3 linked regions of the Homo sapiens genome follow. The protein of the gene in region 2 interacts with the protein of the main gene of each other region in a biochemical or structural test. Each region holds a gene or a part of one and is shown on either strand. Other genes may lie near its edges.

Region 1 (3,656 bases), on a different chromosome or scaffold from region 2:
GGATTATCCAGGTGGGCTCAAGGTAATCACAAGGATCCTTATCAAAGGCAGGTAGGGGCTACATGGTGGCTCATGCCTGTCATCCCAGTACTTTGGGAGGCCAAGGGAGGAGGATCACTTGAGGCCAGGAGTTTGAGACAAACCTGGGCAACACAGCAAGACCACATCTCTACAAAAAATTTAAAAAATTAGCCAGACATGGTGGCACATGCCTGTAGTCCTAACTACTCAGGAGGCTGAGGTGGGAGGATTCCTTGAGCCCAGGTGTAGGAGGCTGCAGTGAGCTATGATTGTGCCACTGCACTGCAGCCTGGGTGACAGAGTGTGACCTTGTCTCAAAAAAAAGGAAGGTAGAAAGGTCAGAAAGAGATTGGAAGATGCTACATGTCTGGCTTTGTAGCCACAAAGTCTATCTAAATAGACTAAATAGATAGACTTTGTCCTACAAAGTCAGATGTCTAGCCCCTACCTAAATAGACTTTGTAGGCAGAATCTACTTAGATAGGAAGAGGGAAACTAGAGAAAAATAAACAGAAAATGTCCTATCCTGTTCTCAGCCCTGTATGATTTTTTAAAACAGGAGTACAGCTTGTCTCACACATAGCATAAACCTTAGAACTCTGTGTATTAAGATGGCCTTGCTGTGTAATGTTTTCAACAGATACTCTTTTGCAGATGGTTTCAAAGACTGGCACAGCCATGATGGCTATTAGATGAATTAATTTAAAGATACCCATGACCAAGTTTTGGGGCTTGGGGGCCTTATTTGAAAATTTCATTAAAATTCTTAATTGCTTACAGTTATATTTCATCTTAAGTCAGTGTAATTTGGTTTAGATGTGCAACTGGCGTTTTTTCCATGGGTGTCTTTGATACATCTCCAGGAACTTTGCTTTCAGAGAACTATCCACACTTGGACTCATATAATAATGCATTCTCCTTTCCTTTTCTCTGTCTCTTTTTTTTAAGATGGGGTCTCACTATGTTGCCCAGGCAGGATTCAAACTCCTGGGCTCACAGGATCCTCCCGTCTCAACCTCCCAAGTATCTGGGATTACAGGCATGAGCTACGGCACCTGACTCCTTTCCTTTTCTCTTAATAGCATGTTCTTTATAATTTCCATTGAATTTAATTAATTTTTATTGCTTTCCTAATTCTCCTATAAAAATTTTATCTTCCTGCTAATCCCTTTTCCCTGTTTTTCAGTGTTTATCACAATGTGTAAAAATGGAACTATTTATATGTTTATTTCTCTAAGGCTTGTTTCCTTTTCTAGCTTGTAAACTCCAGGACAGTAGGGATAACGTCTGTTCAACACTCTATACCCACAGCCTAGCACACAGTGGTCACTTATCAAGCACTGCCCAATAAATAGACAGATAAATTTGCTTTCGAAGAAAAAACCAATCAAAATTTATAGTAATGTAGACATTTGATCTCCCCTGCATAACGTTACCTTTAGATCAGCAAAAGGTTTTGTGAAAGCTCACAGAGTACAAAAGATGAGCAATTTAAACCTCAGACTAAATGCATGTGATTACAAGTTAGACTTGTTACCGCATATGAAATTTTACCTTTCTGTGATACAGAATTTTTGTTTTGAAGTTTGAAAAGGGATTAACTCTTGCTAAGAAGAAGGTGAAAGATTTTGTTACACTAGAAAGCCAGAACGCACCACCCCACCACCCCCAATACCAGCAAAGAAAAAAAAAATCTCTAAAGCAAACCTTTCTGGAAACTGTAGGAAATAAGATTAATAAAGCATAAGTGCAGTGAATGTACCAAAACTCTGTTAATAGCATTTTTCTCACTGATTTCTAAAAAACAAACAAAAAAGAGATAATTATTTGATCCTATAGGCTTTGTCTATTGTTACAGATCGATCATATCTTTTTTTTTAAAATAAGCTATTCACTATATTTTTTCTTGCTTTCTAAATCTTGTCTCACTGAATGTATTAGAATGAGGGAGAAACAAATAGAACAAACCAAAGTTATGGAGAAAGTATGTGTGTGAACTTTATTTCATCATGAGAAAATTACTTCTGTGCAGTAACAGAGAATACTGATATCTATATGATGATAGGCTTTTCTTTGTATTCAGATACATACCTTATATTTGTACACAATATATAAAATTCATGGAGGAAATTAATTTCTACAGTACAGTTTCTTTGTTGGAAGAGAACTTGTTCCGTTTGTTTCATCTAGAAAATGACCCCCAGTTCTGTGACTGTGGTACCAAGGATCGCAGTTCCAATCCTGTAATTTATTAAATTAGACACCATAATCTTATGAACATTAAAATAAACTGAGGCGCTACATCCTCCTGCAGGATGAAACGAGAGACATAAGTGCTCAGGCTGTTATGCTAATAACTGATTTTTACCAGAATAGTATGATTCCCATGATGTATTATGAATAGAAATAGTTTTCCCGCAGATCTGATAACACATATTAGCAACATTGCTACAAATTTCTCTCTGCTCTGCAGGCATGCACTTCACTCTTCAATCAAACCACCTTGTACACACATGGGAAATGAGGCCATCACCAGCAAGGGCCTTCTGCGTTGCATCTAGGAAAGACTCTTGGAGGGCTTTAGCAGTTAGTATGGTATTTTGAGAAAAGAGGCAACTGCTCTCAAACTGATAGGTCATCCCTGAGAGAAGGTGCTAAAATGATAATTCTGGGGGAAGCTGTAGCTACCACATCACTGTACTCCAAATGGGAACAGGTCATGTGGGCATTTTCCCTCAGCATATCCTTCTCTTGGAATAGCATCACTTAGACTGACAACTGCTCCCCAAAGCACTGTTTTCACGGCTAGGGGCCTTTCATCCTTGCTGTAGGATTCAAAATTGTGCTTGTTTTTAACCATGTGAAGCATTTTAGGGTGACTGGCACATGTTGAGGTTTGTGGGAAGTGGGAAAAAAAACACCACCATAGTTCTTTTAGCTAACATCTTGAACTTGAACAAAATCAACATAATTAGTTCTGCAGAGGGAAGTTATGGAGAATCCCGGTGAGGTGGGGGGGTGATTTCTTTGATTAAAATGACACCCCAAAGTGTCAGAATGCTTTGGCACCAGCCACAAATACCTCCTTGTAGGTTTAATTTCATGTGTCTTGCTTACTCTTAAAATGAAAATGTTAAAAGCCTCAGAGGTTATATCTGGCCATCAAATTCAAGCCTCTCATCTGAGACACATTACTTGTCTTTGATGACCAAAATATTTAAAGTATAGCTAAGAAGCAAAAATTCTCTAGAGATGAACCTTGTATGGTGGCTCTCGGTAGCCTAGCCAAGACTGAAGGGACTGGCAAAGATGAAAATGGCGGGTAATGCGAAGTTGCTGGTCTCTTCCTGTTTGGTGCCCACAGGAAGTCTCAATCCTGGTGCTGACGGCCTCCGCTTTGGGTATGAAACGGAGGCAGTCTAAGTGGGTAAGCCAGGAGCAGCCAACAGGCCCTCTCTAAACAGCTCTAGCACCCCACCACCCATTTGAAACACATTCAGTCATACAAATCCACGACTGGAAAGAACCTAGGTCCCACCCTCAGAACAAGCAAGTACTACAGAGTAATTTAGAATCATCTGGGCAAAACTGGCACATGATGTGTATCGGTGGAGAATGGGAGCCTGCTCTAGAGC
Region 2 (3,656 bases):
GAATGTGACCGTAGAAGCTTAATTTTCATTTTTTTTTTTTAATGAACGAATATATTTTTTCAGAATCATTGCTTTTTTAATTTTCATTTTTAATAATTTTCCCTACCAGAGAGCGTAGGCTTATATATGATTTATCTTTCTATCCTAGAAAGACACTCAATGACTTCTGTGGTAGGCATTCACATCTGTTGGACCAAGTTGAATTACACTTCTTATACTGTAGGATTGAAACCATGGCTAATTTATTAGCAGTGTCCCTTTGAACAAATTACATCTTGGGGGCTCAGCTTTCTCTTCTCCAACCTGGATGATAAAAAATATTGCTAATGAGCATGAGCATGTACAGTGGACCCTTGGACATCATGGGTTTGAATGGTGTGGATCCACTTTTGTGTGAATTTCTTTCTTCCTTTTTTTTGAGACAGGGTCTTGCTCTGATGCCCAGGCTGGGGAACAGCGGTGTGATCATAGCTCATTGCACCCTTGACTGCCTGGGCTCAACTGAGCCTCCCATCTCAGCCTCCTAAATAGCTAAGACCACAGGTGCATGCCACCATGCCTGGCTAATTTTTCTATTTTTTGTATAGATGAGATCTCACTATGTTGCCCAGGCTGGTCTCAAACTCCTGGGCTCAAGCAGTCCTCCCTCCTCAGCCTCCCAAAATGCTGAGATTACAGGCATGTGCCATTGTACCTGGCCAGGATTTTTTTTCAATAAATACACTGGAAAATGCTTTGGAGATTTGCAACAATTAAGACAAACTTGCAGATGAATGTGTTACTTAGAAATATTGAGAAAATTTAGAAAAAATTAGGCATGTCATGAATGGATAAAATATATGTAGATACTAGTCTAGTCTATTATTTACTATCATAAAATACATATAAATCTACTATGAAAAGTTAAAATTGATGAGACTTAAACAAATATAGACCATACATGGGCCTATTTGCAGTTGAGAGAAATGTAAAGGTGAAGTATTAAATCATAATTGTATAAAATTAACTGTAGTCCATACTGTACTACTCTAATAATTTCATAGCCACCTCCTATTATTGTGGTGAACTCAAGTGTTGTGAGCATCCGTTTAAAATGCTCTGTGATACTAATCATCCTCACCATCTCTCCAGTAAATTGCATAGTGCAGTAAAAAGTGATCTCTTGCAGTTTCACATTTAAAAAAAATCATGTTTAGTGCAATACTGTAAACCTTGAATAACATCATGCACCCATACAAAGTGCCACCAGTGATGCTAGCAGTGCTCCCAAAAAGCAAAAAAAAGTCACGACATTTCAAGAAAAAGTTGAATTGCTTAATGTGTACTGAAGATTTCAGACTGATGATTCATCTTGTAAACAAATGATATAAACTGATGGTATCAATAAATACAGCATAGTATTATAAATGTATTTTATCTTCCTTATGATTTTCTTAATAACATTTTCTTTTCTCCAGCTTACTTTATCATACGAATACAGTAAATAATACATAAAACATAGATGTTAATGGACTTTTTATGTCATTAAGGCTTCCAGTCAACAGTAGGCTACTAGTAGTTAAATTTTGGGGGAGTCAAAAAATTTTCAGCTGCATGGGGGTTGACACCCTAAATCTCCATGTTGTTCAAGGGTCAACTGTACTTTGTTCCACTCATTAAACTTTGACAACATCAAGATTAACAATATCAACTATAAAGTGTGTACTATTATTAGCTCACTTTTCCAAATGAGAAAAGCAGTCAGAAACGATCTGGGGAATTTGTCTGAAGTCTTAGTACTAATAAATGGAGAAACCAGAGTCTGAATGCTAGCAACCTGGAGTCAGAGTCCACACTATTCATCACTTACTATTCAATTTGCTGAGATCAAATGAGTTTATACACATAATGTGCTTGGAATAATGTTTTGCAAAACGAAGGGCTCATTAGTTTATCTTGCAATTATTGTTACCGTATGAGAACTTGGCTTGCTTCTGGGATGCTTAATAGTTTTTAAGTTGCATTTCTGAAGATTCATTTCTATGAGTTTAATAACTGTCTTTTCTTTAACAGATGCACATTTACTATGATTTTGTAACTGGCTGGCTTTAATCTCTTGGTTGATCTCTTTACTGCTTGGGTTATGTTTGCTGTATATGCAGCATGAAACCTAGGGCTGCTACCAGCATAAATCTTTAAATTCCAGAAAATGAATGATTCCCATCACCACTGAGAAAAATGCATCAGCAACCAGAGGTGAAGACAACGATTCTATGGAGGCTTTTCTTTTGTCCTTCCCTGACTGGTAATGCTGTCTATCCTTCTACAGCCTGGGAAGAAGAGGAGGAGGCTGCCAGGCAGTGTGGGGAAACCAAACTGTTTTTCTCTCAACCAGTATCACTCAATGATTACCAGCTTTGTACCTATTGTGGTGCTGTACTTCCCAATTTTTATTGAGCTGAGTCTTCTGTATTCAGTTCATATCGTGAATTCTCAGGACATTAGAATTATCCATGTTCAAATAGAAATTTGCAAAGTTAAAACAAACATATTTCCAGATTAATCATAACTTTGAATACCTGGCAATGGTTCTCTGTCATCTGTTTGGATAATTGACACTTGTCTTTTAAAATCAGTATTTACATAGTAAGATAGGGCATTGATTTTGATTGTTTTGAACTACAGACTCACATTTTTGACCTCAGGTTTCTCAATTGGAAAATGGATAATCTCACCAATTTTACTTGGTTCTTAAGCCCTCCCTTTCCAGCTACAAATGGTATCAGAAATAATGACACTTCAGTGCAAAGGAAAGTTACAGGATCAGAGCAATGTGAAATGTTCCTGTAGATTGAATTATTATGTTGCCAGACTAAATGCTCTGAAAAGCTCAAATGAGAAAAATAATTCATTTTAAAATGATGGCATTCCTGAGCGCAAACATTCTAGGATCTCCTGTACAAGAATGCACTGAGGGGCCTTCACCTGGGGATATTTGAAGTAGAGCATGAGGTTACTCTGTATATCCTTAAAGGATCTGGGAGGAGCTGAAACAGACTTATGTTCAATGAGCATCTGTGATTTCCACCTAACTTACTTCTGAAGCATATGAAAATTCCACCCCATGCAATATTTGACACAGAAAGTACTGCCCCTTTATTATATAAAAGAATTAGCTTCTTTTAAAAAAAAAAAAAAGTCTGGAATCTCCTTGTAGATGTCTTCCTGGTATTTGGAGAATGCCCCTATGATCACCCTACTTATATGCTGTAGGACTTTATTTATGATGGCTGTCCCATTCCAATTTTTATATTTCTATTTAGAAAATTCTAAATTTGCTGGAGTGCCCAACATATGTTACATGTTTGTCCTTGTGAGAAGGCCAGGATGACCACCAAAGAGCCAGTAAAAGTTTAGAAGGAGCTGTTCAGCCCATCTTCTGAACGCTCCGGGAATCTCTTCAACTTCAGACCATGCCAGGTGACTTTTAGAACCCAGTTCATACTTCCAGCCTGTTCTGATCCTAGGTTTGAACAGTTCTCTTACTATCCTTCAGGTGAGGCAATCAGGTCACAGAGCTGGTGAATGGCAAAACCCTGTTAGAACTCAAAGTCTTAGCTCTCAAATGCTGTGTTTTCTCACTGATAGAAGAATGTGAGGACTGCTAAAGAATCAGC
Region 3 (3,656 bases), on a different chromosome or scaffold from region 2:
CATTTTAAAGATGAGGAAACTGAGACACAGAGAGATTCAGTGATTTGTTTAAGGTTTTACAAGTAATAAATGACAGTTCTGAGATTTGAATCCAGCAGTCTCTCTCCAGATTTTATTCTCTTAATCACTAGACTTTGCTGCCTCTCTATAATAGAACACAACATGTGAGGTAGCACCAAGGTCCTCCAAAATGCTCAGAGATGGTCAAGGAAGCATGGACCCTGCACGACACAGTTAGGCAGGGCAGGGTTTAAATCACGCTTGCTGTGTGGCCTTGGGAACATATCTTGACCACTCTGAACCTTACATTTCCCATTTTCCAAGTAGGAAAAATCAGTTCTTCCCTCTTACAGTAGTTTGAAGGAATGCAGAAGGTAAATCACATGTGGAAGATAATAACAAACATATCTTGAGGGGTGATTACATACCAAATAGCTCAGTACTTTATAGAGATCAGGTTATTTAAGCCTGCCAGGCACTACATGAGGTTGGCAACATATTTATCCCTGTTTTCCACAAAAGAAAACTGAGGTCTGTATACCCATAGTTACCTGCTCAAAGTCCATAGCTGGTAGGTGGTAGAGTCAGGATTTAAGTCTGGGAAGCCTGGCTTCAGAGCCCATGGTCTTTACTATGATGCTATCACACCTCAACGCTTCCCAATAAATGGTAGTTCAAATGTGAATTTTTATTAGAATAATAAATCCTATTGCTGCCACTATGTGCGTCCAACACCATCAACAAGATAGCTAACACATTCTGAATGCCACATATGTGCTGATATGCCTTGCAGAGAAACCCAAGTACAGAATTGTTCTTACAATCAAAGGTTTTAGGCTTCTTCAGTAATTGGTACCAGGAGTGGGGTTTTTCAGAAATGACCTTCAAGGAATGGGAATTTGTTTTGAAATGGACTTCTGGGTGTTGACAAAGTGAAAGACAGGGAAAATCCCTACTCCTGACAGACAGTGGGTTATGGTGGGGAAGCAGGTAGCTAGGCCATTGCCGGCAAGGACAGCTGAGTGGAATGGCTGTGTCCAGTTATATTAGGGGACACACAGCAGGAAGGGGTTGCCTTCTGGTCCTGTACTGCTTAGTGAAGCTACAGTGGTGTGTGACATTAATCCTTATGACATTATATAACTTTGGAATGACTTATCCCATTTTACAGATGAGAAAACAGGCTCTGAGAGAGAGGAAGTGGCCCTGCAGGGACATATACCAGGCACTGGCAGAAGAACTCTGGGTTTCCTTCCCCCCTCCCTCTTGGGGTGCTTTTTTTTTTTTTTTTTTTTTTTTTTTTTGAGGCAGAGTCTTGCTCTATCATCCAGGCTGGAGTGCAGTGGCATGATCTCGGTTCACTGAAGCCTCCACCTCCCAGGTTCAAGCACTTCCTGTGCCTGAGCCTCCTGAGTAGCTGGAACAACAAGTGGGCACCAGCATGCCTGGCTAATTTTTGTATTTTTGGAATAGACGGAGTTTTGTTATGTTGGCCAGGCTGGTCTTGAACTCCTGGCCTCAGATCCATCCACCTCGGCTTCCCAAAGTACTGGGATTACAGGCATGCACCACCATGCCTGGCCAGAGTGCTCCTTCTCTTTTTTTTTGAGACAGAGTCTCGCTGTGTCACCCAGGCTGGAGTGCAGTGATGTGATCTCTGCGGAGTGCAGTGGTGTGATCTTGGCTCACTGCAAGCTCCACCTCCTGGGTTGATGCCGTTCTCCTGCCTCAGCCTCCCAAGTAGCTGGGACTACAGGCGCCTGCCACCATGCCCAGCTAATTTTTTGTTTTTGTATTTTTAGTAGAGATAGGGTTTTACCATGGATGGTCTTGATCTCCTGACCTTGTGATCCGCCCACCTCAGCCTCCCAAAGTGCTGGGATTACAGGTGTGAGCCACCACACCTGGCCCAGAGTGCTCCTTTTTAAGTGACCAACACTCACTGAGCATTCTGGGTGGCCTGTTAGAAACCAGAGGCAAGGACTTTATGAGCCTCCTGAACACAGGTTGAGTTGAGAAAACAGGGTCATTGTGGAGAAAAATTAAACAGATGCTTTCCCCTACCGCCAGCCTGATTCAGACCCTGTCCAACTCAAAACATGAATCCCACAAACCCTGACAGATTCCCCATTCCTGTCTGCACAGACTGGGGAGTTATTTGGGCGTGGAGAGGTGGTGTAGTTGCGCAGTAGAAGATTCACCTTGCCCAGAGAAAGGTTTGGCCCTTGATCAGCTCCCGGGAGGGAACCTCTAAGCCCATGGAATGTCCTGCCTGATTAGAGTGTCTTTGTTTACCTGGGGCCTTGGATCATGTGGCATAGTCTATGTTAACACTGTGATATATGCTGGAGGCCTCCAGCTCAGCCTCTGGAGGAGCTGGAGACTAAAGTCAGCCACACCAGCAATCAGTCACGTATATGAGGCCGACCCCCAATAAAAACCCTGCCCACCAAGGCTCAGGTGAGCTTTCCTGGTTCGTAATAGACTGTGCATGCTGTCACATGTCGTTGCTGGGAAAATTAAGCACTGTCCATGTGACTCCACTGGGAGAGGATGACTGGAAGCTCACACCTGGTCTGTCCTGGACTCTGCCCTGGGTGCCTCTTCCCTTTGCTGACTTCAGTCTGTATCCTTTCACTGTCATAAACCATAACCATGAGTATAACAGTTTCCAGCCAGGCGTGGTGGCTCATGCCTGTAATCCCAGCACTTTGGGAGGCTGGGGCGGGTGGATCACTTGAGGTCAGGAGTTCGAGACCAGCCTGGCGAACAGGATGAAACCCTGTCTCTACTGAAAATACAAAAAATTAACTGGGCGTGGTGGCAGACGCCTGTAATCCTAGCTACTCTGGAGGCTGAGGCAGGAGAATCACTTGAACCTGGGAGGTGGAGGATGCAGTGAGCCGAGATCCCACCATTAATTACACTCCAGCCTGGGCAACAAGAGTGAAACTCCATCTCAAAAACAAACAGACAGACAAACAAAAACAGTTTCCTGAGTTCTGTGAGTCAATGATTCTAGCAAATCATTGAACCTGAGGGTGGTCATGGGCACCTCCAGACTACAGTGCTGTACTAGACTATGCAGGATTCAGTTCTGCCTCTGCTACCATTGAGCCTCTGGGCAAGTGACTGCTGCTCTCTCGGCCTTATCCCTCATGACTGTCACCTGGACATCCTGCACATGAGGTGCCAGACCCTGCCCTGGTGCTCAGCAAGTGTGACTGTGGTTGTAATCACTCAGCACATGCTTCCTCTGGTCACCGTTTCCTCATCTGGACAATGGCACTCATAATGTTTCCTCATTCCCAGAACCCTGCTGCTTTCTAGCTGTGTGACCTTGGACAGGTCACTTCACCCTTCTCAGCCTCAGTTTCCTCTGTTGAAAATGGGGATTATATGTTCCACAAAGGGTCACTGTGAGTAATCATTGAGATGTGCAGAGGACCTCGCATGCTGCCTGGACCACAGTTGGTGCTCAGTAAGTGAATCCCAGCATTGTTCTAAGTTCTTCGTAGGTGTTATATCATTTAAGTCTTTCATCTGCTCTATGAAGCATCCCTTTTATTATCCCCATTTTCCAGATGAGGAGACTGAGTCCCAGAAGAAGAGTCACTTACCTACAGCCATGCAGTTATTAATAAAGTGAGGGAGAT

The links.
Region 1: the proteins of SNAP25 (region 2) and TRIM9 form a complex in vitro, tested with the Homo sapiens proteins (one study listed by BioGRID).
Region 3: the proteins of SNAP25 (region 2) and SYT3 form a complex in vitro, tested with the Homo sapiens proteins (one study listed by BioGRID).

What each region holds. Positions count from the first base shown.
Region 1 is NC_000014.9:50,994,070-50,997,725, forward strand, and holds part of TRIM9 (E3 ubiquitin-protein ligase TRIM9), read right to left. Parts: exon of another isoform or gene 1,995-3,656; intron 1-1,994. UniProt on the Homo sapiens protein: E3 ubiquitin-protein ligase which ubiquitinates itself in cooperation with an E2 enzyme UBE2D2/UBC4 and serves as a targeting signal for proteasomal degradation.
Region 2 is NC_000020.11:10,302,304-10,305,959, reverse strand, and holds part of SNAP25 (synaptosomal-associated protein 25), read right to left. Parts: intron 1-3,656.
Region 3 is NC_000019.10:50,633,298-50,636,953, forward strand, and holds part of SYT3 (synaptotagmin-3), read right to left. Parts: intron 1-3,656. UniProt on the Homo sapiens protein: Ca(2+) sensor involved in Ca(2+)-dependent exocytosis of secretory vesicles through Ca(2+) and phospholipid binding to the C2 domain.